7 linked regions of the Homo sapiens genome follow. The protein of the gene in region 1 purifies or fractionates together with the protein of each later gene. This does not show direct contact. Each region holds a gene or a part of one and is shown in the gene's direction. Other genes may lie near its edges. The genes, in order: ZHX1-C8orf76, RIC8B, DMXL2, ALMS1, UBE2Z, PPIP5K1 and ALDH1A3.

Evidence for each region.
Region 2: the proteins of ZHX1-C8orf76 (region 1) and RIC8B purify together in Homo sapiens (affinity purification with mass spectrometry; one large-scale study listed by BioGRID and IntAct). This does not show direct contact.
Region 3: the proteins of ZHX1-C8orf76 (region 1) and DMXL2 purify together in Homo sapiens (affinity purification with mass spectrometry; one large-scale study listed by BioGRID and IntAct). This does not show direct contact.
Region 4: the proteins of ZHX1-C8orf76 (region 1) and ALMS1 purify together in Homo sapiens (affinity purification with mass spectrometry; one large-scale study listed by BioGRID and IntAct). This does not show direct contact.
Region 5: the proteins of ZHX1-C8orf76 (region 1) and UBE2Z purify together in Homo sapiens (affinity purification with mass spectrometry; one large-scale study listed by BioGRID and IntAct). This does not show direct contact.
Region 6: the proteins of ZHX1-C8orf76 (region 1) and PPIP5K1 purify together in Homo sapiens (affinity purification with mass spectrometry; one large-scale study listed by BioGRID and IntAct). This does not show direct contact.
Region 7: the proteins of ZHX1-C8orf76 (region 1) and ALDH1A3 purify together in Homo sapiens (affinity purification with mass spectrometry; one large-scale study listed by BioGRID and IntAct). This does not show direct contact.

What each region holds. Positions count from the first base shown.
Region 1 is NC_000008.11:123,236,287-123,239,786, reverse strand, and holds part of ZHX1-C8orf76 (zinc fingers and homeoboxes protein 1), read left to right. Parts: intron 1-642; coding exon 643-738; intron 739-1,845; coding exon 1,846-1,989; intron 1,990-3,500. Other genes in the region: uncharacterized protein C8orf76, read left to right, coding at 643-738, 1,846-1,989.
Region 2 is NC_000012.12:106,812,682-106,816,181, forward strand, and holds part of RIC8B (chaperone Ric-8B), read left to right. Parts: intron 1-2,014; coding exon 2,015-2,623; intron 2,624-3,500.
Region 3 is NC_000015.10:51,616,272-51,619,771, reverse strand, and holds part of DMXL2 (dmX-like protein 2), read left to right. Parts: intron 1-3,500. UniProt on the Homo sapiens protein: May serve as a scaffold protein for MADD and RAB3GA on synaptic vesicles. Plays a role in the brain as a key controller of neuronal and endocrine homeostatic processes.
Region 4 is NC_000002.12:73,444,836-73,448,335, forward strand, and holds part of ALMS1 (centrosome-associated protein ALMS1), read left to right. Parts: intron 1-3,124; coding exon 3,125-3,500. UniProt on the Homo sapiens protein: Involved in PCM1-dependent intracellular transport. Required, directly or indirectly, for the localization of NCAPD2 to the proximal ends of centrioles.
Region 5 is NC_000017.11:48,914,907-48,918,406, forward strand, and holds part of UBE2Z (ubiquitin-conjugating enzyme E2 Z), read left to right. Parts: intron 1-1,169; coding exon 1,170-1,281; intron 1,282-3,500. UniProt on the Homo sapiens protein: Catalyzes the covalent attachment of ubiquitin to other proteins. Specific substrate for UBA6, not charged with ubiquitin by UBE1. May be involved in apoptosis regulation.
Region 6 is NC_000015.10:43,569,709-43,573,208, reverse strand, and holds part of PPIP5K1 (inositol hexakisphosphate and diphosphoinositol-pentakisphosphate kinase 1), read left to right. Parts: intron 1-48; coding exon of another isoform or gene 49-60; coding exon 61-175; intron 176-332; coding exon 333-440; intron 441-1,368; coding exon 1,369-1,485; intron 1,486-1,632; coding exon 1,633-1,797; intron 1,798-3,500. UniProt on the Homo sapiens protein: Bifunctional inositol kinase that acts in concert with the IP6K kinases IP6K1, IP6K2 and IP6K3 to synthesize the diphosphate group-containing inositol pyrophosphates diphosphoinositol pentakisphosphate, PP-InsP5, and bis-diphosphoinositol tetrakisphosphate, (PP)2-InsP4.
Region 7 is NC_000015.10:100,893,331-100,896,830, forward strand, and holds part of ALDH1A3 (retinaldehyde dehydrogenase 3), read left to right. Parts: exon of another isoform or gene 1-623; coding exon 624-752; exon of another isoform or gene 753-2,602; coding exon 2,603-2,716; exon of another isoform or gene 2,717-2,736; intron 2,737-3,500. UniProt on the Homo sapiens protein: Catalyzes the NAD-dependent oxidation of aldehyde substrates, such as all-trans-retinal and all-trans-13,14-dihydroretinal, to their corresponding carboxylic acids, all-trans-retinoate and all-trans-13,14-dihydroretinoate, respectively.

The sequences.
Region 1 (3,500 bases):
AAACTCCTAACCTCAAGTGATCTGCCCGCCTCGGCCTCCCAAATTGCTGGGATTACAGGTGTAAGCCACTGCCTTTCCCTACGTTATTTATTCAATAGTCAAGCAATCTCAGTCTCACTTTCCTTTTTATCCATAGGATTTAAATCAGTAGAAAAGCAAATAAAGTATCCTAGATGGGCATTTCCTCAGACTTCTCTCCTACAGGTTTTTGGTATTTGGTTGCATTGGAGCCTCCTTCTAGCCTTAATTTCTGTCTCCTTTGCTGAAATTCTAGTTTTTTGCCATTATGACATTTTCATAATAGCACCATATCTATAATTCTTCTTTCCTATGTCCTTTCAGTAAAGAATTGTCAATCCCTATTCCAGTCACACTAAAGTTTATCTACAAGAAAGCATGTCTCATTTTAAAGAACCAATGTGGGCTGGGTGCGGTGGCTCACACCTGTAATCCCAGCACTTTGGGAGGCCAAGGTGGGCAGAGGCAGGATCACTTGTGCTCAGGAGTTCAAGACTAACCTGGCCAGACTCTTGAAGAAGTCTTTTTTTGACGTTTAATCAATTATATTATGGGAAATTGCTTCTGAATATGAGGTGGAAAAGCATAGCTCACTCTGTAATAGGCTATTTTCATGATTTCAAGTGGTTTTATGAAGAAACAGAAAGCAGTGATGATGTTGAAGTGCTGACTCTCAAGAAATTCAAAGGAGACCTGGCCTACAGACGACAAGAGTATCAGGTAGAATTCAACATATGGTGCTTGAAGTGGGCTCTTGTTTTATCAGTTATGGCATATGTAAATAACAGTGTACCAAGTTAGTGTGGTGTTTATGAAGATGAGTTTAATCTTTTGTGATGTGTGTTTATAATCTGAGGCTCCCAAGTTTCCGTTCTTTTCTGCTTGGCTCTGTATGATTTGTTTGTTTTCTGTAACTCCAACAAAAGGATCTCTTTGGGGTCCTTGTCCTTGTAGGTTTATTCCTCAAGGTTCTGAATCTCCTCATTACTTAGGACCCTCTAGCACAGACATTTCACAGTGCCACAGGAGCAAATCACCCCAAAATGTATAAGAAAAAGAACTAACAACTAGATGTTAGATTGCGTTACATATGTATCTCATTTCATCTGCATGAGAATCCTGTTTTTATTTTGCTGATGAAAAGGTTATAAAGTAAGTTAGTGGCAATACCAGAATTCAAAGCCTAGTATATTTGGTCCCAGAATGTTCTTTCTGCTATATCATGATGCTTTCCATAGTAGTAGTGATTATATTCTCTAGCCATTCCTTCTCTACCTTTTAGGAAAGTAGGATTGACTAGATGTATTAGTCCATTTCCATACTGCCATGAAGAAATACCCAAGACTAGATAATTTATTTAAAAAAAAAAAGGTTTAATGGACTCACAGTTCTACATGGCTGGGGAGGCCTCACAATCATGGCAGAAGGTGAAGGAGGAGCAAAGTCACGTCTTACATGGCGGCAGGCAAAGAGAGTGTGTGCAGGGGAACTGCCTTTTATGAAACTATCAGATCTCCTGAGACTAACTACCATGAGAATAGCATGGGAAAAACCCACCCCCATGATTCAGTTACCTCCCACCAGGTCCCTCCCACAACATGTGGGGGTTATGGGAGCTGCAATTTAAGATGAGATTTGGGTGGGGACACAGCTAAACCATATCACTAGAATAGTGAAATCTTCTTTAATTCATTTAAATATTCATGTAATTCATTGGTCAGTTATAACATTACTTTCCACCTAGGAAAAAAAATCACCCCTATTCTGAATCCTTTTTTCTGTTATGTTTTCCTCCTTTCATTTCTTTATTTAACAAATAATTTCCAGAAAGCACTGCAGGAGTATTCCAGTATCTCTGAAAAATTGTCATCAACCAATTTTGCCATGAAAAGGGATGTCCAGGAAGGTCAGGCTCGGTGTCTGGCTCACCTGGGTAGGCATATGGAGGCGCTGGAGATTGCTGCAAACTTGGTGAGTGATTTTATTGCTTATTTTCACACACATTCCTATAAGGGTGGTCGAATGGTGTATTTTTTGAAAACAAAACAAACTTCTTGCTAGTAGCAAAATCTATGGGTTTGGATAAGCAGAAGAAAATTGTCAGGGGTGTGAGAGTTTTATTATGATGAACAACTTGGAACCTAGACATAATCATTTTCTTGTAATATTTTTCTTGTGTCATGCTCAAAATTCTGTATTGCCTGAAAATCTCCTTTGCAGAGGTTTTTCTCTTGTTAGGAGTAACATTCAGTGTGGAAGGACTATGAGTGATCTGTTTTCTTCGTTAGATTGTTTTTAGACGTTGTTCTCCAAAATTTCTACAATGAACAGTATTTTTCTAAGCCAAAAAAGGTCCCCCCCCCAAAATGACTAAATACTCATTACCAAGCCACACTTAGTAGTCCTTTTTATTTTTAAGTGGAATTTGCAGAATTTTTTTTTCTTTTTCCTTTTCCCCAGTCAACGAAAGGGACACTTTATGACACTTTATTGAGGCCCCAGGGCCATGAGGCCTGGGCAGGACGCCGCTCTTTGGGGAAGGAAGAGCCTTCTTTGTCCTTCGTCTTGGGGTACAGGTTGTTGGTGTGGCCGCGCTTCTTGCGGGAGTTGACAGCACGGGGTGGTGCAGGCGGGCACAGCACTTGCGGCAGATCATCTTGTTGTAGTTGTATTTCTGGGCGAGCTGGCGGAGGGAAGGCTCAGTAATGCCACCTCGCAGGCGCAGCACCAGGTGCAGGGTGGACTCCTTCTGGATGTTGTAGTCTGAGAGAGTGCGGCCATCCTCCAGCTGTTTGCCCGCAAGTATCAGACGCTGCTGGTCAGGTGGGATGCCCTCCTTGTCCTGAATTTTGGCGTTGCTGGGCTCGATCTCAAGGGTGATGGTCTTGCCTGTGAGGGTCTTCACAAAGATCTGCATCTCTGCATCTGGAGCTCGGCAGCCTCGCTGAAGAAAAAGGGAATTTTTCTTTCTTTTTTTTTTTTTTTGAGACAGAGTCTCACTCTGTCACCCAGGCTGGAGTGCAGTGGAGTGATCCCGGCTTGCCGCAACCTCCGCCTCCCGGATTCAAACGATTCTCCTGCCTCAGCCTCCTGAGTAGCTAGGATTACAGGCATGCACCACCACGCCCAGCTAATTTTTGTATTTTTAGTAGAGACGAGGTTTCACCATGTTGGTCAGGCTGGTCTCAAACTGACCTTGTGATCCGCCCGCCTCGGCCTCCCAAAGTGCTGGGATTATAGGCGTGAGCCACTGCACCCGGCCTTCTTTTTCTTTAAAAAAAAATTTTATTGCCTTTTTCCACACATTCTAAAGCGGAATTTTTTTTTAAGGGATAAAGAAAGGTAGTTCTTTCCAGTTCTAGATTTTATTGCTTTTGTTTCTAGGTTAAGGCATTATTTGTATTGATTGTTGTGTAAATTTTATATGGGAATTAGTCTAAATGGACTAGTTTTCTTCCTCGGAGGAAATTAAGGAGACACTG
Region 2 (3,500 bases), on another chromosome or scaffold:
GTAGAATGTATTTTTTTGTCTTGAATATGAAAGATCTAAATATGGAGAAAATTTTCCCTGTTCTGTATACTTTTAATTAATGGGCACATTATACTTTCCACTATCCCCAAACTACATTCAAAAAAAGTGCTTTAACAATGATAGTAAAATATTAAGAGAAAGTCCTTTCTAAATATCAGGTATGGCAGGGATAGAATTGACAATGTTATGAAATTTTTTTTTGTCTTATCAGATAAAGTTCTTTTCCACATCTATTTAGAGAACGCAATACAGTCATCCCTCTGTATCGTGCAGTCTGCATCTATGAATTTAATCAATTGTAGGTTGAAAATACTCAAGGAAAAAAAGGATAGTTGTGTAGAACATGTACAAACTTTTCTGTCATTATTCCTTAAATAATAAAACGATTTACGTAGCATTTACATTGTATTAGATATTATAAATAATCTAGTGATGTCTTCAAGTATACAGTAAGAAGTGCATAGGTTATATGCAAATACTATGCCTTTTTTTTTTTTTTTTTTTTTTGAGACAGAGTCTCGCTCTGTTGCCAGCCTGGAGTGCAGTGGCATGATCTTGGCTCACTGCAACCTCCGACTCCCTGGTTCAAGTGATTCTCCTGCCTCAGCCTCCCGAGTAGCTGAGATTACAGGCACGTGCCACCATGCCCAGCTAATTTTTTGTATTTTTAGTAGAGACGGGGTTCCACCACGTTAGCCAGGATGGTCTTGATCTCCTGACCTCATGTTCCGCCTTCCTCAGCCTCTTGAAGTGCTGGGATTACAGGCGTGAGCCACTGCGTCCAGCCTTCTATACCATTTTATATAAGAGACTTGAGTATCTGTGGATTTTATTATCTGCAGAGGGTTCTGGAATCAATCCCACACAGATACCAAGGGATGACTACATTTAAAATAGGCATTTTTGTAGCTGATGACTATGTGCACATAGCCTAGGTTTCCTGACAAGATCACAATGGGACCCACAGGCAGCCTCTTTTTATTGAAGAATTAAGTCTGATGATAGATTAATAGAAATTTTGTAAAATCTTATATTGGTAATAGTAGTTGTTGTTTTTATAAGATGTAAGGGAGTACAGAAATGTTCGGTGATAGAGTAGTTATACCTGCTTGCCTCACATATAAGGGTAAGCTTGAGAGACCCAGACCTGCAGTTTGTAGAGAAGAAAACTGACATTGAATTTTGAGGGAGTGGTCAGTGATCCTTAAATTTGACAATGGTATAAAAAAATCCTTTTTAGGAAATATAAGATATTTGGGTTCATTCTAGAATTGTTTTTGAGATATTGATAGCAAGGTTTGGAACCAGAACTACTACATATATTTGTACAGTCTGTGCCCTACAGCAAGATAACAAAAGAAAGCTAAAATTCTGTCCACAGTCTGAGCTTTCCAAGCTATGTGTGCTTTTTAATAATTTGCCCACCCAGTGGGAACTTTTTTCTGTAGTTTGTATACCAGGAGGGGTCACCTTTTTGCAATTGGCTCAAGGCATAATAGATGCTAATTCAACTCTATTTGGAACCTAACACTTGAATAATTTTTTATCAGTTTGTCAGCAAAAGTTCTTCTCTGGGGTTGTTTGATGATTAAATATTATTAGATCTTAGCTAAAGGGGGTTCAAGGGTTTCTGAAACATGGGACTGCTGCTAAAGAGCTATAAATTCAGAAGCAATAGCATGACTAAAACTCAGCAGAAATGCATACTTCTTTAAGTCTTTTTGCAAGAGCCTGTACTCTGGACAAATATGAACCAATTCTTGAGACGTTAATCTTTATTTCTGGGAAGGGAACAGCTATGATTCAAACTGATTGTCTTCCATCCTGATGGTGACCTTATATTTCAGTTTCTAACATTCCGTGATTTAAAAAATAATAAAAACCTTTTCTCTCTGGATTTTTAACTGTTGTTAAGTACATTGGCAGAGAAACATTCTGTGTTAAGTCATTTGAGCCAAATAATGATTTTTGCATACTCGTTCTTGTTTTTCAGAAACTCTGTGAAGGCATATTTAAAGTCCTTATAAAGGACATCCCAACAACATGTCAAGTGTCCTGCCTGGAAGTACTCCGCATTCTCTCCAGAGACAAAAAGGTTTTAGTTCCTGTGACAACTAAGGAAAATATGCAGATACTGCTGCGACTAGCCAAGCTAAATGAGTTAGATGATTCTTTGGAGAAAGTATCAGAGTTCCCAGTTATTGTGGAGTCATTAAAATGTCTGTGTAATATAGTGTTCAACAGTCAGATGGCACAGCAGCTCAGCCTGGAACTTAATCTTGCTGCAAAGCTCTGTAACCTCCTGAGAAAGTGCAAGGACCGGAAATTTATCAATGACATTAAGTGCTTTGACTTGCGCTTGCTCTTCCTTCTGTCACTTTTGCACACCGACATCAGGTCACAATTGCGCTATGAGCTCCAGGGACTACCGCTGCTAACGCAGATCTTGGAAAGTGCCTTTAGCATCAAGTGGACCGATGAGTATGAATCGGCCATAGACCATAATGGACCTCCTCTCTCACCTCAGGAGACAGACTGTGCCATTGAGGCCCTCAAAGCTCTCTTCAATGTGACGGTAGACAGTTGGAAGGTGCATAAAGAGGTAAGGTAGAGAAGGCTATTTTTGTCTACCTGGAATTTAATTGGTCTGGGACATCCCTAGAGTTTCCTGCAAGAGAAGAATACAAGTTGGGAAATGGAAAAAGTTCCCACTTCTCCCATTAAGCAATTGTATTACCCAGGATATACTTCTTAACCATTGTAAGTCTTATTCTTTCCATTTGTGTGATAACACCTATCAGAATAGGTGTAAAAATGGACTACTATTTTGTAAGATGCCAAATATAGTTTTCTGAGTTGCATTATTCTCTCTTTTTAAGAGTGCCGCTTTCAGGAATAAGGTTTAAATTATAAGATTTGAGGGGAAACAAAACAATGTAGTTGATAAAGCTATAGGCATTTTCAGTGGCTGCCATCTTAAAGAAAAGTTAAGACAGATCAAGCCAATTGAAGTTGATCAATCAGAATTGGTGTCTGCTCAGGAGAGTAGAAGATGCTCTGTGTATGCCTGTTGTCCCAGTCTCTGGGAGGTTTCTCTGTAGTGTTAGATAACTATCAGAGGCATAGGACCACAACTAGATATCTGTGCTCATATATAAGTTCTAGAAAACAAGCTGATTATACCAGAGTGTGGGAAAGGTTATTTTAAACCACTTGACTTATTTCTAAACAAAGATCTTTCTTCACTGTGGCTTGGACCCTTCAGCAACCCAAAGTGACGCAGATTTGATAGTTTACATTTGAGTACCCACAAGAACAATATGCTAAATAGGAAACTTAGTTTAAGGAAGTCAACAAATTAAGTGAAGTAGACATAAGCTTTTTTCCCTCCTTCTAGAAGCATAACATGTCACATTTATTCTCTTTTTAGCTTTAAATAACTGTTGAAATTCACCCCCTCCTGTAAAAAGAAAGAGATT
Region 3 (3,500 bases), on another chromosome or scaffold:
CTTGCAACTAACTCATGATTCTTAGCTGATGTTGTGTTTCATGGTAGCCTGAGAACCTTTTCAAAATACAATACATACTTTATTTCAGAGTCTAAAATTGATACATCTTTGAAGAACAGAATTGTTCTAAAAGGATTTTGAGTTTATGACAGTGTAATAATTGAAAGAAATGTGTGTTATATATTTTGCTGTGCATGGTGGGTGGCGTGATTGGTTGGCTGTGAATGACTACTTGATGTCGTGATGTCCCAATTTGTGCAATATTGACATGGTACTGCAGTCTGTAGTGGACAATCTCAGCTGATGTCTGTGGTTTTAGTGGTATCACGTAAGCTATGATGCTTTTCACTTGTGTTTAGGCAGTATACAGCTGTTTCCTTAAACATTCGATTGTGATTTCGTAAATGTAGCTGTAGATATCACATTTTAAAACATCACCTTTTGAACAATTTTGTTCTTTTCAGTGTAAGATCTAGGTTTTCGAAATGTTATCCTGCAATAAGTCAAATCTCTGGTAGTTCAAAGAGATGATCTTCTCCCGTGTATGAGCTTTATTATACTTTATTTTGCCTTTAAGACATTTCTTACTACCCTTCAGTGAATGTTTTGAGGGTTTATGCAACAGATATTGTAAATTTCTCATTATTTATGTTATTACTTTTCTGAAAGATAGTCCTTGGCTATTTTTTAAACTTTACTGCACATATTAAAATATTAATTGAAATAATGATCATACGTGATGATTTTTTAAATTAAAAATTCATTTGGCCTTAAGGCTTGCAGACTATTTTGAGATGTATAGGGGCAGTTACTATTATTCCAGTGTGACATGATTTCAACACATTGATCAAAGTTTACAAAAATTAGTAAGTCATTTGCACTCTTAGGGAATTTATAATATACTGGCAGAGATTAAAATGATTTATATAATTATAACATAAGGCAGATGGAAGAGATTGTAGTTGGGAAAACAAGAAGAGGTTTTATGGAAGAGTAAGGTTTGGAAAGATAAGAACAACAGAAGCAAAGGAATGGCATAATACGAAGGATAAATTATTGAGTGACTGTTTTCTTTGCAAAAGTTACTTTTTAATCACAGGACTTCTTCATTAAATAACAGACACTCTTAGAATGTTGAAAAAATATAATATGCAAACATTACCTGTAGCTTTTCAGGAAAACGTACCTGGTATTCTGACATTCAATTTTTTTTTTAAATTAAAATACCAACAAAAGGTTGGAAATAAATGGAAAACCATTCATTTAAAAATTAGAAAATAATGTTGTATAACCTCTTTTATGGCATTTAGATATGTCTTAACTCTATTGTAGAATAAAATTTCAGTCCTAGAGTTATGGTAACACCAAACCTTGAAAATGATCAACCAGTTTATACATTTAGCAAATGTTGAACACATAGGTGTGCTAAGCTTTGTGGGTATTAAAAAAAAAAAAAAAGAATTACAAGACATAGTCTTGATTTCAGGGAGTTTATTGAAGAAGTGTAGGAACCTGGTAGTCTAATACGAGAGTAAAAGACACATACCTAACCACAGTAGGCCAGCTGTGCAATATTACCAGCATTTAAGTGGGAATTCAGGAAGACTAAGAGAACTTTTGGCCAGGGGAATCAAGGGGTTGGTTAGAAACATGCTTCTGTACTGGCTGGTTATTAATGTGTTAACCTGTGCTGAGAGGAAAGTGAAAGACAGAAGTCAAGAATTTAGAATGGACTTGTTTTCTAAGAGAAATTGGCCTTTTTGTTCTTGGAGTGTAGCTTCTTGTTTGTTTAAACGGATACATTTAAAACCTTGTGGGCTTGGGCTTAGTGTCAACCAGTAAGTGAATATAGGGTTTATAAGTTCTTATGTCCCTGCGTAGATTGTTAATTAGCCTTCTTGCTTGTAGCAAGAAGACTCCTAGCAACTACTCAGAAACTCTGGTAAGGTTCTGAATAATGTCTTCCCCAAAAATGGGAGGTCAGAGACCAACTACTTGTATGGTGTTGGTGAAATCACTTAAACATGTTTAGGTCTTTGATCTGTAAAAGAAGTTCTTAAAGATATTCTTTAAGTATTTAGACCACGAATGAAAATTATATGGACTTCTCTAGAGATTTTCAGGGGTCAAAAGAGAAAATGGACTAGAAACATAAAGTGGTTGTGTTGAAGTTGTAGGTCTGGAGTCTTTATCGTATATTGCTTCTCACTTGTATTTACAAGACTTGATCAGATCTCACTTGTATTTACAAGATTTGATCAGACCTCACAGTCGGGGAGTCTGACCTCCTTTCTGGCTCAGTAGATAGGCCATTCAGAGCATTTATGAAGTAGTGGGTCTAGGAATGAGTCTTTGGGCTTACAGCTGAGGAGAAGCCTCTTGATTAGGTTTTGGTCCTTGGCACCTGGCAGATGATAGTTGCCTGCGACTGTCATAGTACAGTATTGGGTGGGAGATGGGACCAGTGTGATGGTGTTTAGGTTCTCCTTTCGCAGCTTTCCTTTTCCCGTGCAATGCCTTTATTTTAGTTTCTGTTCTTAGGATTTGGGCTATTTAAAATATTACTTTAGAAATTATAATCAGATTATCTTAACTTGGATCTTGGTAAATTTTTAGAACAAATCAGAGTCTCAGTATTTAATTATCTGAAAGAGCACAGGATGTTGGGTGACAACCATAATGGCACAGTAGAAAAACAAGTCATGCCTGACCAATTTAATTTCCTTCTGTGAAACCAAGGCAGTACTTAAAATGGGATATAATATAGAATATCTAAAATTCAGATTTAGTCAGACTTCTCTAGCTTGTCAGTTTTTTTTTTTTTTTTTTTTTTTTTAGATGGAGTCTCACTCTGTCACCCAGGCTGGAGTGCAGTGGTGCAACCTCTGCTCACCACAACCTCCATCTCCTAGGTTCAAGCGATTCTCCTGCCTCAGCCTCCTGAGTAGCTGGAATTACAGGTGCGTGCCACCATGCCAGGCTAATTTTTGTATTTTTAGTAGAGACAGGATTTCACGATGTTGGCCAGGCTGGCTTGAACTCTTGACCTCAAGTGATCCTCCTGCCTCAGCCTCCCAAGGTATTGGGATTATAGGCATGAGCCACTGCACCCGGCCATTTGTCAGTAATTTTTTAAAACAAATTTGGAAGCCAAATATTTCAGTAGAAGTTTTAGGGTTTTCAGTCCTTTCGAGTTTGTAGAATCCTTTTGCATTATGTTAGTGCTCTGAAACCCTGATCCATGATGTAACTTGGTATTGAGGGACAAGTACATCTTAACAAAGGTGACATGACTATATTCACTCTCTCTTAAAGATAGCTCATGTAATCCTGGAATTTGATGTAAATATGAAACCAGTTGCCTGCACTTCTTATTTTTGTGTGTGTGGGTTTTTGTTTTCTTAAATTTCTTTTTTTTTCGTTTGCCTGCAAGTTTTACTCTCAAATCCTCTCATTTCATGATTCCTGAGGCTTCCTTTAATGCTATCTACCCCTAGTCC
Region 4 (3,500 bases), on another chromosome or scaffold:
AATGAATGTAGAGATAAACATCTATGAGTTAACTGAGGGATTAACGAAATACAACACAATTATAATTATTTAGTTATCAATAATTAATAATTAGGAACTTATAAAAATGATATAGTAATTAATTAGAAAGCAAGAATAACAACAATGAAGACAAAGACCCATTTAAAATATCACTGGTGTCTTTTTAAAAAAACATGAATTTGAGTTTACTTCTCTGTACACACAATAGGTGCTTTTGCCAGACTTTTTAAAAAAAAATCTTTTTTATTTTTAATATTTATGAGAACATAGTAGGTGTATATATTTATGGGGTACATGAGATATTTTGACACAAACATACGATGTGTAATAATCACATCAAGGTAAATGGAGTATCTGTCACCTCAAGCATTCATTATTTCTTTATGTTGTGAAAATTCCAGTTATACTCTTTTAATTTAAAATGCGTTATAAATAATTGTTGACTGTAGTCACCGTATTGTACTATATCATATTCTAGAGCTTATTCATTCTAACTACATTTTTGTACCCATTAACCATCCTCCTCACTACCTTCCCAGCCCCGTTACAGACTTATTAGTGACTGAATTAGAGGGCTCAAAATGAGAGCTATAGTAATTTATTTGTGTGTGCTAGTATTAAAACCCATAATAATTGACTTGGAACGATTACTAGTAAGAGGCTCTTAGTCATATGTAAAATGGAAGTATGGAATTGTACCTCATTTTGTCTGTGAGAAATAAAGGGCTTGCTTATTCTTCTTATGTCAGAATATACTTGGGGAAATAAAACCGTGCTGTCTTCGTCACCTAGGAAGCCTTCTGTGTTACTAAGCACCTTAGTATGGAGAAGAGTTCTTGAGTAAATTGTACCCAGGTTGTTAGTCTTAATGTCATCTCTAAGAGGCATACAGTTCCCACCCAATATACAACTTTGGTGTAGTATAGTCTTTTCTGGCAGCCATCTTCCTCTTCTTGGTCGAAACTTACCTCTTCAACTCACCCCTAGTTCTGAAAATGAATCTCCAAAGATTATATCAGTATGTAGTAATATTGTTAACACTCACACTTAGTGTATTCTTCTTTCCCAGGGCTGAGAGAATAATAAGGACTCTAAAAACATACCATTTTTCATCATGAACTCCTTATGTACATAGACACATTTTATAAATCATAGTTAATGGATTTGTGATCACCATTCTTCTGACAGTTTGACATATATGTCCTTAACTTTATATAGAACTGACAAGAATTCTTCTTTAACATCGTGCATCTCCTCCCTCGCTTTTAACAGCTTAACCTATAGTCGTTCTTCCAGTTTTCTTTACTAATCTTTTCCTTTACCCCTGAGGTTAAAAAGACCTTATCTTATGTAACCTGGATCTTTCAAGGACCTGGGCTGTACATCTTAACTCCTTAGCTATTTATCTCATTTGTCCCCATTCATGGTGTCACTAATAATTTGTAATGGCCAAAGGGATATAAAAACTTTGAGAAATCAGGAAATCATTTAGAAAAACAAGGTTTTGTTTTGTTAATCTGTTTTGGTTTATTAGCTTCTTGAGCCTGTTTTGTTTCCTCACAAAAACTTTTCTTATTTTCTTTAGACCCAGCAGGCAAGAACCTCACAAAATTTTGTAACTCATATTCCTTCTCAGGTTACAATGCATGTTACATTTTTAAATTTTTTACTTTTCTTGAAGAGTTAATACTTGATACTTCTAGTTCTTTACTTTGAAATTCACTCCTCAACCCATTTCATTCTATATTCAGCTCCTTTGAAGCTCGTCAGTGGCCATAGAAAGCCAGTCAGTTGTAGTGGAAAGAGCTCAGAACTTGGATTTAGAGTTTAAGGGTTAAAGTACCAGTTTTTGTCACTTACCCACCTACAATTCTAGAAAAACTATGTATCTTTGCACTTAAAATGTGGTCTGAGGACCAATAACATTGGGCATCCCTGGGGAGCTTGTTAGAAATGCAGAATTTCAGGTCCCACCCAGACCTACTGAGTCAGAATCTGCAAGTTAACAAGATCCCAACATTGAGAAGCACTGTTACATGGTCATCTTTGCAACTCGGTTTCCCTATACGTAAAAAATAGATAATACTTGCTCTATATATCAATCATCTTAACACCATCTGACACATCATATGTTTTACCAATTTATTGTCAGCCTCCTCCTGCTAGAATACAAATTAGCTCTGTGAGGTAGGGATTATTGTCTGTTTATTGCTGTATGTAGAACAGTGCCTGGAACATAGTAAGCATTCATGTATTTTGAATGAACAATGAATGAAGGGACAGCTTGTCAAATCCTGTCATTTCTGTTGCAGTCACTTACTTTACACTGCTGTTTAAAACTGCTTTCATTTAGAATTATTGTATTAGTGCAAATATAGAACATTTCTATAGAAATGTTTGTTGGATTGTGCAACCTAGATTTTTACATTCCCTTCTCACTCATCTTGAAAACTTTAAAACTGTAAACAACTTGCCATGCTATACAGAATTAAGTTAAAACTCTTCAGAGTAACCTTTAGAGTTTTTTCAGTTTTATGTACTTAAATATATATATATTATACAGGGTGCATTTGTTGGGAGAGTCCTTCAAACTCACTGCACGCATAGCATCCCTCTAGGCCATATTGTACTGCCCCTGTGGGACTTGGGGGCAGGAGGAACCCGTGAAAATAAGCTGATGAGCCTTTGCTGTACCAGGGATCATGAAGTCTTTTGTCTCTGACTGAAGACCTTATGTCTTCTGCCAGCCTGCAAGACACAATAACAGATTGTAAGTAGGGTGAAATCAAATCCTAGACCCAATAGCATTATCCCATCTCATTGAAAATTCTCTTAAAAATCCAAGTTGTAAGATCCATATAATATTTCATCCACTGGATATACTGTTGTTTATAACCATTACTCTGTTGTTGAAGATTAAAATGTTTTTACTTTAGTTTTCTAATTAATATCTTTGTGTGCAAATATTTATCTCCTTTGATGGCTGTTTCCTTAGGATTCATTTCTAGAAGCTTTTTAAAGGCTCAAAGCTGGCTTTTTTCCAGCACATAGAATTTTAAAATAGAAAATTTTATATACTATTAACAAATCTCTTTTTCTTTAGGAGACACTTCTAAAGGAGGCATAGCTAAAGTTACTCAATCCAACTTGAAGTCAGGCATCACTACCACTCCTGTTGATTCAGACATTGGATCTCATTTATCCTTGTCCCTTGAGGACCTGTCTCAGTTGGCTGTAAGTTCTCCTCTAGAAACTACTACTGGTCAACACACTGATACTCTCAACCAAAAGACATTAGCAGATACTCATCTAACTGAAGAGACTCTGAAAGTCACAGCTATTCCTGAACCAGCTGACCAGAAGACTGCAACACCAACAGTACTCTCTAGTTCCCACTCACATAGGGGGAAGCCCAGCATTTTCTACCAGCAGGGCTTGCCAGACAGTCATCTAACTGAAGAGGCTTTGAAAGTTTCAGC
Region 5 (3,500 bases), on another chromosome or scaffold:
GCTACTCGGGAGGCTGAGGCACAAGAATTGCTTGAACCTGGGAGGCAGAGGTTGCAGTGAGCCAAGATCACGCCACTGCACTCCAGCCTGGGTGACAGAGGGAGACTTTGTCTCAAAAAAGAAAGAAAAGAAAATTCTTAGGTGTTCCTAGTTGACTGTATTAGCTTTATCAGCCATGTTTTTTTTTTCCTCTTTACCTAGAAAACAATGTTGGGCTGACTTACTGACAAAAGAAATTTAACGAGAGTTGACTCTGTTGTAAAGCTTCAGAGAGCAGTAGGTCTAGAGTTCCTGGGGGAGCAAAGCTGAAAAGATAGAGGCACTTAAGAGCAGTCCCCAGTGAAGTTACTATTAGGCATTACTGACTTGGGCTTTCCTCAAGTACAGCAGGGAAACAGAAGCAGGCAGTCAACTTGAACAAGCCAGTCCTGGCTTAGGTTGTGTTCGGCTTCCAGCTCCGGTGCCATCTCTTCAATTAATTGAGCTAAAAATAAATGTCATTAACATCCAAGCTGTCCCCTCCCCCTAATACTTGGTTGGGTTTATGAAAGAGAGGAGCAATTTTGGTATTTGACGTTTTCCATATATTATTTTCAGACCTTCCACTGTCTGGAAGCACCCCTTATTCTCTTCCTGTTCTTTGGAAGAGTTGTGTAGTCTTAAGAGAATTTGACACTCCTTGGGGGTTTGATACAGAACTGGATCCCCAATAGCCCCACCACATGGCCTCTAACCAGATGGCTTCAGTCACCTGTGTCCCTTTATGCTCAACTTCCCTCTCCCCTCACTAACTCCATCACCACCCATAAACAAGCTCTTTGAGATCCACGGAGATTAACATTTAGACAACTTTGGAGCTAATTGCTTACCTAATTTCTTTTGTTTTGATTGTCGTAACTGTTTCTAGTACAAAGAAAATCCCTTCAAAGTTACATAGCTTGCTATTACCTGTTCTTTTGCCCCCCCCCCTTGATTTGAGGATTAGGCAATTGACTGATTTCTGGTGAAATCAGAACATGAGCATGAGACAGAGGCTGGGAAATTCCAGAGTATTAATAGTGAAAGAGAAACTTATGGTGAGTCACTTATGGTGGTGTTGCCGGGCCCCAGGGTACTTGTTCCCTATTCTTTCTCTGCCTCACCCTCCATTCCTTCTGATGTGTTTACAGTACATGGACTGGACCTGCCTGGAGCCCAGCCCAGAGCATCTCCTCAGTGCTCATCTCTATCCAGTCCCTGATGACTGAGAACCCCTATCACAATGAGCCCGGCTTTGAACAGGTAAGGCCAGATGGGCCTGGCTCTGGGGTGTAGACTATTGTTTTTGTTTGTTTGGTTGGTTGGTTTTTTTGTTTTTTTTTTTTTTTGAGACAGAGTCTTCCTCTGTCACCTAGGCTGTAGTGCAGTGGTGCAATCTCAGCTTACTGCAACCTCCGCCTCCCGGGTTCAAGCCATTCTGTCTCAGCCTCCCAAGTAGCTGGGACTACAGGCGTGTACCACCATGCCTGGCTAATTTTTATATTTTTAGTAGAGATGGGGTTTCACCATATTGGCCAGGCTGGTCTCCAGCTCCTGACCTGGTGATCCGCCTGCCTCGGCCTCCCAGAGTGCTGGGATTACAGGCGTGAGCCACCGCGCCCAGCCAGAATAGTGTTTTAAGAGATCTGCTTGGGAGGTTTTTTTTGTTTTGTTTTGTTTTGTTTTGTTTTGGACCTAGCACAGCCCCATGTACTACATTTGTTGGTATAGGGAAAAAAAGGGAATTGACACGTGTTTTTTAGTAATGAAATTTTTTGCCGACCACTGTGGCTCACACCTGTAATCCCAGCACTTTGGGAGGCTGAGGCAGGCAGGTGGATCACCTGAGGTCAGGAGTTTGAGACCAGCCTGGCCAACCTGGTAAAACCCCATCTCTACTAAAAATTAACTGGTCAGAAGTTTGAGACCAGCCTGGCCAACATGGTGAAAACCTGTCTCTACTAAAAATAAAAGAAATTAGCTGGGTGTGATCACTTGAACCCTGGAGGCAGAGGTTGCAGTGAGCTGAGATCACGCCATTACACTCCAGCCTGGGTAAGGAGCGAAACTCGGTCCCCCCACCCCCAAAAAAATAATAATGGCCAGGCGCGGTGGCTCACACCTGTAATCCCAGCACTTTGGGAGGCCGAGGCGGGCAGATCACAAGGTCAGAAGTTTGAGATCATCCTGGCTAACACAGTGAAACCCAGTCTGTACTAAAAATACAAAAAATTAGCTGGGTGTGGTGGCAGGCGCCTGTAGTCCCAGCTACTCGGAGGCTGAGACAGGAGAATGGCGTGAACCCAGGTGGTGGAGCTTACAGTGAGCCAAGATTGGGCCATTGCATTCCAGCCTGAGCGACAGAGCGAGACACCGTCTTAAAAAAATAATAATAATAATGAATTTTTTTATTTGTGAGAGTTACAATAAGTATGTGACTTGGATTCCTTTATAGCATGGAAGTCAATGGACTCCTTTGGAAATTAATTCTGACCTGCTTTGGGGGTTGTGGCATCCAGTGGGTTCTATGTGCCTATATTCTCAGCATCCCCTAAAGTTGCTCTGTAGGGACTACTACCCAGCCAGCTGTTCTTCTGGGGTTATGAAGGACTGTTACCTGCAGAGTCAAAGGAGCTAGTCATTAGGAGTCCCGGGCAAGACTTTTTGAGTTAACAGTGCCAACGAGAAGGTGGAGAAAACTCACATTTTTCCAAGAGCATGCTCTGTGCTGGACACTACCAAGTTTTTATATATAATTTCTTGTTTAACCTTCATACTATGTGAGGTTAAATATGGTTATTCCCATTTTCAAGTGAAATAATGTTGCCTCAGAGAGGTTAATTAACTTTCACAAAGACACACAGATCAGGATAGGACCCCAGACTTACATTGGAGCCCAACTTCTCCCACTCTTCCGATGTGCCTTCCTGAATTACTCATGAGCACGGGAAAAAGTTCCAGTGATAGTCCCAAAAGAAAATGATTCCGGATAGGTGATTAGAACAGCTTAATTAATTTATTTATTTTTTGAGACAGAGTTTCACTATTGTTACCCAGGCTGGAGTGTAATGGCACAATCTCGGCTCACAGCAACTTCTGCCTCCCAGGTTCAAGTGATTCCTCTGCCTCAGCCTCCCGAGTAGCTGGGATTACGGGCACGCACCACCACACCTGGCTAATTTTTTGTATTTTTAGTAGAGAAGGGGTTTCACCATCTTGGCCAGGCTGGTTTCGAATTTCGGACCTCAGGTGATCCACTCGCCTTGGCCTCTGAAAGTGCTGGGATTACAGGCGTGAGCAACCATGCCTGGCCAACTTAATTTATTTTTAAACTATTACATATGACACCAACTTTGATTCTTCCTCTATAGACCTGAACAAAGGATAATAAAATGCCTTTCAAAAATGAAAAATAAAAATTTTTTTTGAGACAGAGTCTCACTCCATCACTCAGGCTGGAGTGCAGTGGTGTGATCTCGGCT
Region 6 (3,500 bases), on another chromosome or scaffold:
TTTGCAGAAGGGTGGGAACAGGGTTAACTGACTGTGTGAGTGATTTAGCTGTTATCTCAGGTACTCCCGAGGCGTGCTCTCCCCAGGTCGCCACGTTCGAACGCGTCTCTATTTCACCAGTGAGAGCCATGTCCACTCCCTGCTCAGTGTCTTCCGTTATGGAGGACTTCTTGATGTAAGGATCCTCCTTCTTCTTTAGCCTGTGAACAGCTTTTTCCCAGCATTCTTTTACTCTTCTCAAATGAAAGCTTTCTCCATTCTCATTGGCTCCCTGCTCATTCTCTGACTCCCATTTCCTTAAGCAATGGCTTACCTCTTTTTGCATTTGGTAGGAGACCCAGGATGCACAATGGCAGCGAGCTTTGGATTATCTTAGTGCCATCTCAGAGCTTAACTACATGACCCAGATTGTCATCATGCTTTATGAGGACAACACACAGGTGAGGAGCTAGCAGGTGGGAGATGAGAGGAAGGCCCCTTCTTTTGAATTCTATTAAAAAAAAAAAACTTGCTTATCCTTATAATTTGGAGAATCCAGCTAGGTGTGGCACTTACGCACAGCATGACACAGAGCATCCAGGAGGTTCCTACTGGAATGGAAAATATGTTCTGGGATGTTGTTGAGCCAGAGAGGTAACCTAGAACACAGCTCTGGCATTAGAAGAGTATGGAATTTGGGACAATGTTATGAGTCTTATTTCCTCAAACATGGTTATACATATACCTTCTGCATACGGCTCCACAATGATACTTTTTTTTTTTTTTTTTTTTTTTTGAGACAAGGTCTCACTCTGTCACCCGCGCTGGAGTGCAGTGCTACAATCTGAGCTCACTGCAGCCTTGCAACCTCTGCCTCCTGGGCTCAAGTGATCCTCTCACATCAGCCTCCCAAGTAGCTGGGATGACAGACATGTGCCACCATGCCCGGCTAATTTTTTGTAGAGATAGGGTCTCAACATGTTGCCCAGGGTGGTGTCAAACTCCTGGACTCAAGTGATCTGCCTGTCCCAGCCTCCCAAGGTGCTAGGATTACAGGTGTGAGCCACTGCTCCTGGCCCACAAGGTATCTTTAAATGTTCTGCTATATGCACCACAGCCAAGCTGAGTTATTGTGGAAGGTGATGGGAAGCGTTGTAAAGCTGGAAGTTCAGAAGTCATGTGCAATGGTGAAATCACAAATGGTAGAGATGAGGGAATGAGGATCCTGTAAGAGACAATATATAGTTGAAAGGAAGCTATAACAGGTCAGCCCCGGAGTGGGACAAGACCCTGAATTCCTGGGAGGATGAATCCCCTTGAGTTCCTCTCTACTTCCACCACAATATCCAGCTTCTCCCAACTTCCCCCTCTTGTGGTTATGCTCCATAGGATCCCTTATCAGAGGAACGGTTCCATGTGGAGCTACACTTCAGCCCCGGAGTGAAAGGTGTTGAGGAAGAAGGCAGTGCCCCGGCTGGCTGTGGATTCCGTCCAGCCTCTTCTGAGGTGGGTCAGAGTGCTGGGATTTGGGACTGAAGGACTTAGGAACCAAGTGGTGGGAAGCAGTACAGGGAGAAGTAAAAGGGCTAGGTAGTCTGGGATTAGGATTTTGGAGGCCATTAACACCTCTCTTATCTGCCTTTTGTTGTATAGAATGAGGAGATGAAAACCAACCAAGGCAGTATGGAGAACCTGTGTCCAGGAAAGGCATCAGATGAACCAGACCGGGCATTGCAGACTTCACCCCAGCCTCCTGAGGGCCCTGGCCTTCCGAGGAGATCACCCCTCATTCGTAACCGAAAAGCTGGTTCCATGGAGGTAATGAGAGGGCCTTGGGAAGAAATGAAGGGGTGGCAGTGCTCATAGGACTATATCCACAGATCCACTAGATCCCCTTGGGGGGTCTCTTGGGACTTGAAGCAGAGTCCTCCTGCTCTGATTGATATGTTTTACTTAATCTCTCTTTCACAGCTGGTCTCCCAGTAGTGCTTCTTTAACTGGTTGCTACTTCTCAGATTAAAGAGTTGCCATTGAGGGATGCCTGAGAGATAAGGGTTTAAAGAGATAAGATTAAGGAGGAGGCCTCTGGATGAATTTGAAAAGGTAGTTCTTTAAAAGGAAATCTAGTGGAAACAGCTTGAACTCCGGGCCAAAATCCCAGTGTAATACTTGGAAGCTGTGTGACTTTGGCTGGGTAACTTCTCTACATTTCTCTGACCTTAACTTCTCTAAGCCTCAATTTTTTTTCACCTCTAAAATGTGAGTAGTATCCACTTTATAGATGCTCAACAAGCAGTAATATATTAACAATGCAATTGATATTAAAGGTCCAGCCCTCTCCAGCTCTTGGTCACCTTGGGTAAAAATTATAGCTCAGATAGGAGCAAATACCTGGCACTTTATCTGTACTGTCATTCCAGAAAGTGGGTCAGTCAAGAGCTCTGTCTGTCTTCCTCTTGTTCTAATGAGGATCTTTATCAGCATGGGCCTATATTCTGCTGTTCTTGGAGGTTGTTTCTAGTTCTGGTTCTAGCTCTCTAGCCTAAAGGCAGTAAGTGTTATTAATCTCATATTGTGTCCAGCTAACCATCTGAGGTTTTTGTTTTGGTCTTTTTCCTGGAAAAACTGTTTCTGTCTTTGGCCTAATTATATCCTTTTTTTTTTTCCCCTATCTTGCTCTTTCTGTATCACTTACATTCATTTTGACACCACAATTTATCCCTGTCTCAGAGACTTTGACTGTCTGATTTAGATTCTGCTCTGTCCTAATGACCGTGTTCACCCTGGCTCGGTGCCAGGTCTCTATCTTAGAGGAATTGGTTTTTCCATTTTAGGGATATATCAGAAGAATCTATAACAAGCTGACCTAGGTTCAGCAAAAGTTTTGCAATTCAGATTTTGGAGAAAGCTGAGAAGATGAACTGCAGTCTCTTCTTTTGATTCATCCTTTACTTCCTGATTATTTTAAGGTGAAATTGCCATTGGTAATATGCAGAGTTTCTTTAGGTAGGATATACATTATTTTCTCTTTGAGGTGTAGGTGTCGGTTGGTATCCGTAGTACTCTATTACCCTTTATACTCACATCCAATAGATCACATGGATAGAATGATACATAATCTTCCATCAATAAACTGATCCTCCAAATGTCTTTCCTATTCACATGGTCTGCTAGTCTCTCCTGGTGCTGTTGTGCCTGAACCGCGTCCCCCATCCCCCAACCATTTTTTTCTGGTTTATGCAGTCATAAGACATAGACAGCTGCGTGTGGTGGATCACACCTGTAATCCCAACACTTTGGGAAGCCTAAGTGGGAGAATCATTTGAGGCCAGGAGTTCAAAACCAGCCTGGGCAACATGGCAAGATCCTGTCTCTACAAAAAATTTTAAAACATTATAAGATGGAAAAAAAAAAAAGGCACAGGTAAAGGAAAGCTCTGTGTATCATCTCTCAGACTTGATAAGATTGACTTCTTTCAGGCCTATGGGAAGCTTCCTATTGTAATCACAGGCTTTCTTTTC
Region 7 (3,500 bases), on another chromosome or scaffold:
TTCCAAGGAGTGGGAATGGCCTAGGCAAAAGTGCAGAGGTGGCTGGGCTACTTGGAAGGGAACAGCAGGAAAGCTGGTGGGGCTAGAGCTCAGGCAGGAGCAAAAGTGAGGAAAAGGGTGAGCACACGTGGCAGGTGGTGTGGGCCAGCTTCCAGCAGCTTTGGCTGCTAAGGGGCCGGGACTTTATTCATTGGGCGGTGGGGATGCTTATAGGTGCCCAAGAAGTGCAACAATGCTGCCTGTCTGTTTGGGAAGCCTCTGGCCATTGCAACAACAGCCAGGCAGGAAGCTGAAGAGCCAGGTGGCAACATGAAGTGAGGGTTCAAAAAGTGCCCATGGAGGCAGGGAGGAGGACACGTCTTCAGCAGATGTTTTAGAGGGAGAGGTAGAACACATGCAACAGCATCCTCTTTGCAAAGGCTGCCTATTAGTACCACCCAGAATGCAGTTTAGGAAGTGCTGTGCAGGATTGCAGTTCTGATCATTGCACACTCCTATGTTACCCCACATACCCCAAATCCAGACCATGAAAAGCAAGTGTCCTCCACAAAGGCATCGTTGAGCACATGGGACAGGGTAAGAGGGTGGATCTGGGCCTCCAAAGCCCCTGTGCTCTGTCGCAGTGGAACTTCCCCCTGCTGATGCTGGTGTGGAAGCTGGCACCCGCCCTCTGCTGTGGGAACACCATGGTCCTGAAGCCTGCGGAGCAGACACCTCTCACCGCCCTTTATCTCGGCTCTCTGATCAAAGAGGTGAGACATCCAAAAAGAAAATATCACATGTTCTTGGTAACATTCCCACTCCTAGGAACCAGGCCACCGTCACGAGATGGGACAGTGGCAGACTGCTGGCAATCGAGTGGGAAGGGAATGACTTCCAGTGTTTTGTTTGGCGACTGCACGTTCTTTCTCCTGCTTGTGGCCACTGAGCTGGAGAAACTCCATTCCTCCCAGTGGTCCTAATGAGAATGCTTAACTCTTATTATGGGCTCAAACCTATGGTTGAGGACCCAGTGGTTTGTCTAGAGAATTTTCAGGGGGGGTCAACCAAGAGGGAGCCAAATATTTGGGAGGTTCTCTGGGATTTGCATTCTCAGTTTATGAAATGGTCCATTTTTCTCTGGAGAGGTGGCCTCGTCAGCTCTAGCTGGGCGGCTGCAGCAGTCCGTGTGCCGGGTCCCTGCTAATCAGTGCCCTCTGCTCTGAATGCAATCTCTTCTCCCTCAGGCAGCCAGAACTTAGGGAAACAGAGGCTCAATGGGACACCTCCTTCCAGACATACCTTTAGTCATTCCATCCCCAGGTTGTATGGAGCAAAGATTTAGAGAAAGCAACAGGAAGCAAAGAGGGACAGAAGAAAAGATCCATTCCTTTCTCTTCTTAGTCGGGCTGATATGACCGGCAGGCAGGTCCACAGTTGCTTAGAAGCAAGGTGGGAACAGCTGGTGATGAGCCAATTTTCCACTTTCCTTTGGTGATGTGGGGCATAATTAAGTCACACTGGTGAGACTTAGGAATGTGAAAATCCCAACTGTTAAGAAACAGTGCCTAAAAATCTAAAGACTCAAGCAGCGTGCCTAAAATCTTGATTTTCTGAAATAATGTGTTCTAAGTAAGACTCAGCACAGGTGGGGAAGAGCATCCTCCACCTCGTTTGTTTTGTGTTCTCGCCTGATAAAGAGGCTTAGTATATGAAAAACACGAGGCATGAACGTGAACGAGGTGGCAGTCCCTGCCTTCCAGAAGGGCTTGCTCCAGGTGAGACCCAGGTTGAACAAGCAAAGAACTTTAAGGGAGTGATACCCTGTCACCATTTGGAATAATAACGGGTCTGATTAAAAAATGAAAACTGGGCTCACGCCTGTAATCCCAGGACTTTGGGAAGCCGAGGTGGGTGGATCACGAGGTCAGGAGATCGAGACCATCCTGGCTAACACAGTGAAACCCCATCTCTACTTAAAAAAAAAAAAATTAGCCAGGCGTGGTGGCGGGCACCTGTAGTCCCAGCTACTCAGGAGGCTGAGACAGGAGAATGGCGTGAACCTGGGAGGCGGAGCTTACAGTGAGCCAAGATCGCGCCACTACACTCTAGCCAGGGCGACAGAGCAAGACTCCATCTCAAAAAAAAAAAAAAGAAGAAAAAACAAAACTGAAGCTCTTGGCAGATATTTTGCAGGTGCCTCTGATCCTGGGCAGGGCATTCTGATCAAGGTACCCCTCTCCCCTTAACGCATACACACACTCTCCCTCACACACACACACACCCCACATGGAAAGGTGCTGTGCTACAGGCGGGCCATGGCCACCTTGAAGCATAACCACACATTTGCACTGCATATCACTTTGGGATGGGGTCCCCCCCCAGAAGGAGAAGTGGGCATCTCCCCTTGCCCAGCCTGCACACTGGGCTGGCAGCAGGGGATGAGAAGCCCAGGTCAGCTCCCAGGGTGCCCACGGTCAACTGCTTCTGGGTCCTGGGTAAATCCAGCCCGGCCCGGGTTCCCTGTGGGGATGTGAGGCAGCCACGGCTCTCTCGGCCCAAATGTGGATCCGTGGTGGATGAAGTCCGTTCTTCTTCAAGTGCTATCTTGATTTCTTCCCAGGCCGGGTTCCCTCCAGGAGTGGTGAACATTGTGCCAGGATTCGGGCCCACAGTGGGAGCAGCAATTTCTTCTCACCCTCAGATCAACAAGATCGCCTTCACCGGCTCCACAGAGGTAACCCTCCTCACAGGGTGCTGGGGAAAGTGAAAGGGGCGTGTTATTTGACACCCGTGAGCTTTTCCTTTGACAGGCTTTAATATGATTTGTTTTTCTTCTAAATTTGACCATGTTTTAGTACATAACAACCAGTTAAAAAAAGTCACTGGTCTAGTTTCCAAACTAAATAAATATCTAATAGAACTCAGAAGCCTTAGAAGAAAAGATTGAGAGATAAGATAAAGTAGAAATGTAAAATATTCATCTGTCAAACACCATAATTAAGATTAAGAGATAAATAACAAGCTCAGAGAAAAATAGTCGTGATGCATGCAGTGCTCCAAGAATTTATATCCGTCATATGCAAAGTGCTCCTACAAGTCAATGAAAAAAAAAAACCAAACTGAATGGTAGAAAAATGGGCAGTTCAGAGAATAGAAATACGACGTGCCCATTAAGCTTAAACTAGTTTGCTGGTAATCAGGAAAATGCAAATTCAAACAAAATCAGACTTTCCTTTTGCCTGCCAGATTGCTAAGAACTGAAATGATACTGCTGAGAATATGGGGAAGCAGGTGCTCAGCGACACTTGCCCTAAGATGCACAGTGTTTTGGTAGCACTCATCCAACATTTAAAGTGAAAAACTTTTCGATTCAGAAGCTCCATTTCAAAAAAAGAAAAAACTACTTAGAGAAATTTTCTCATGAGGCTTCAGGGACATATTTTCAAGGATATTATATTCATTCTCTGGAATGTTTTACAGCCGTTACAACAAGGAAAGCTGTCCATGATCTATTGTTG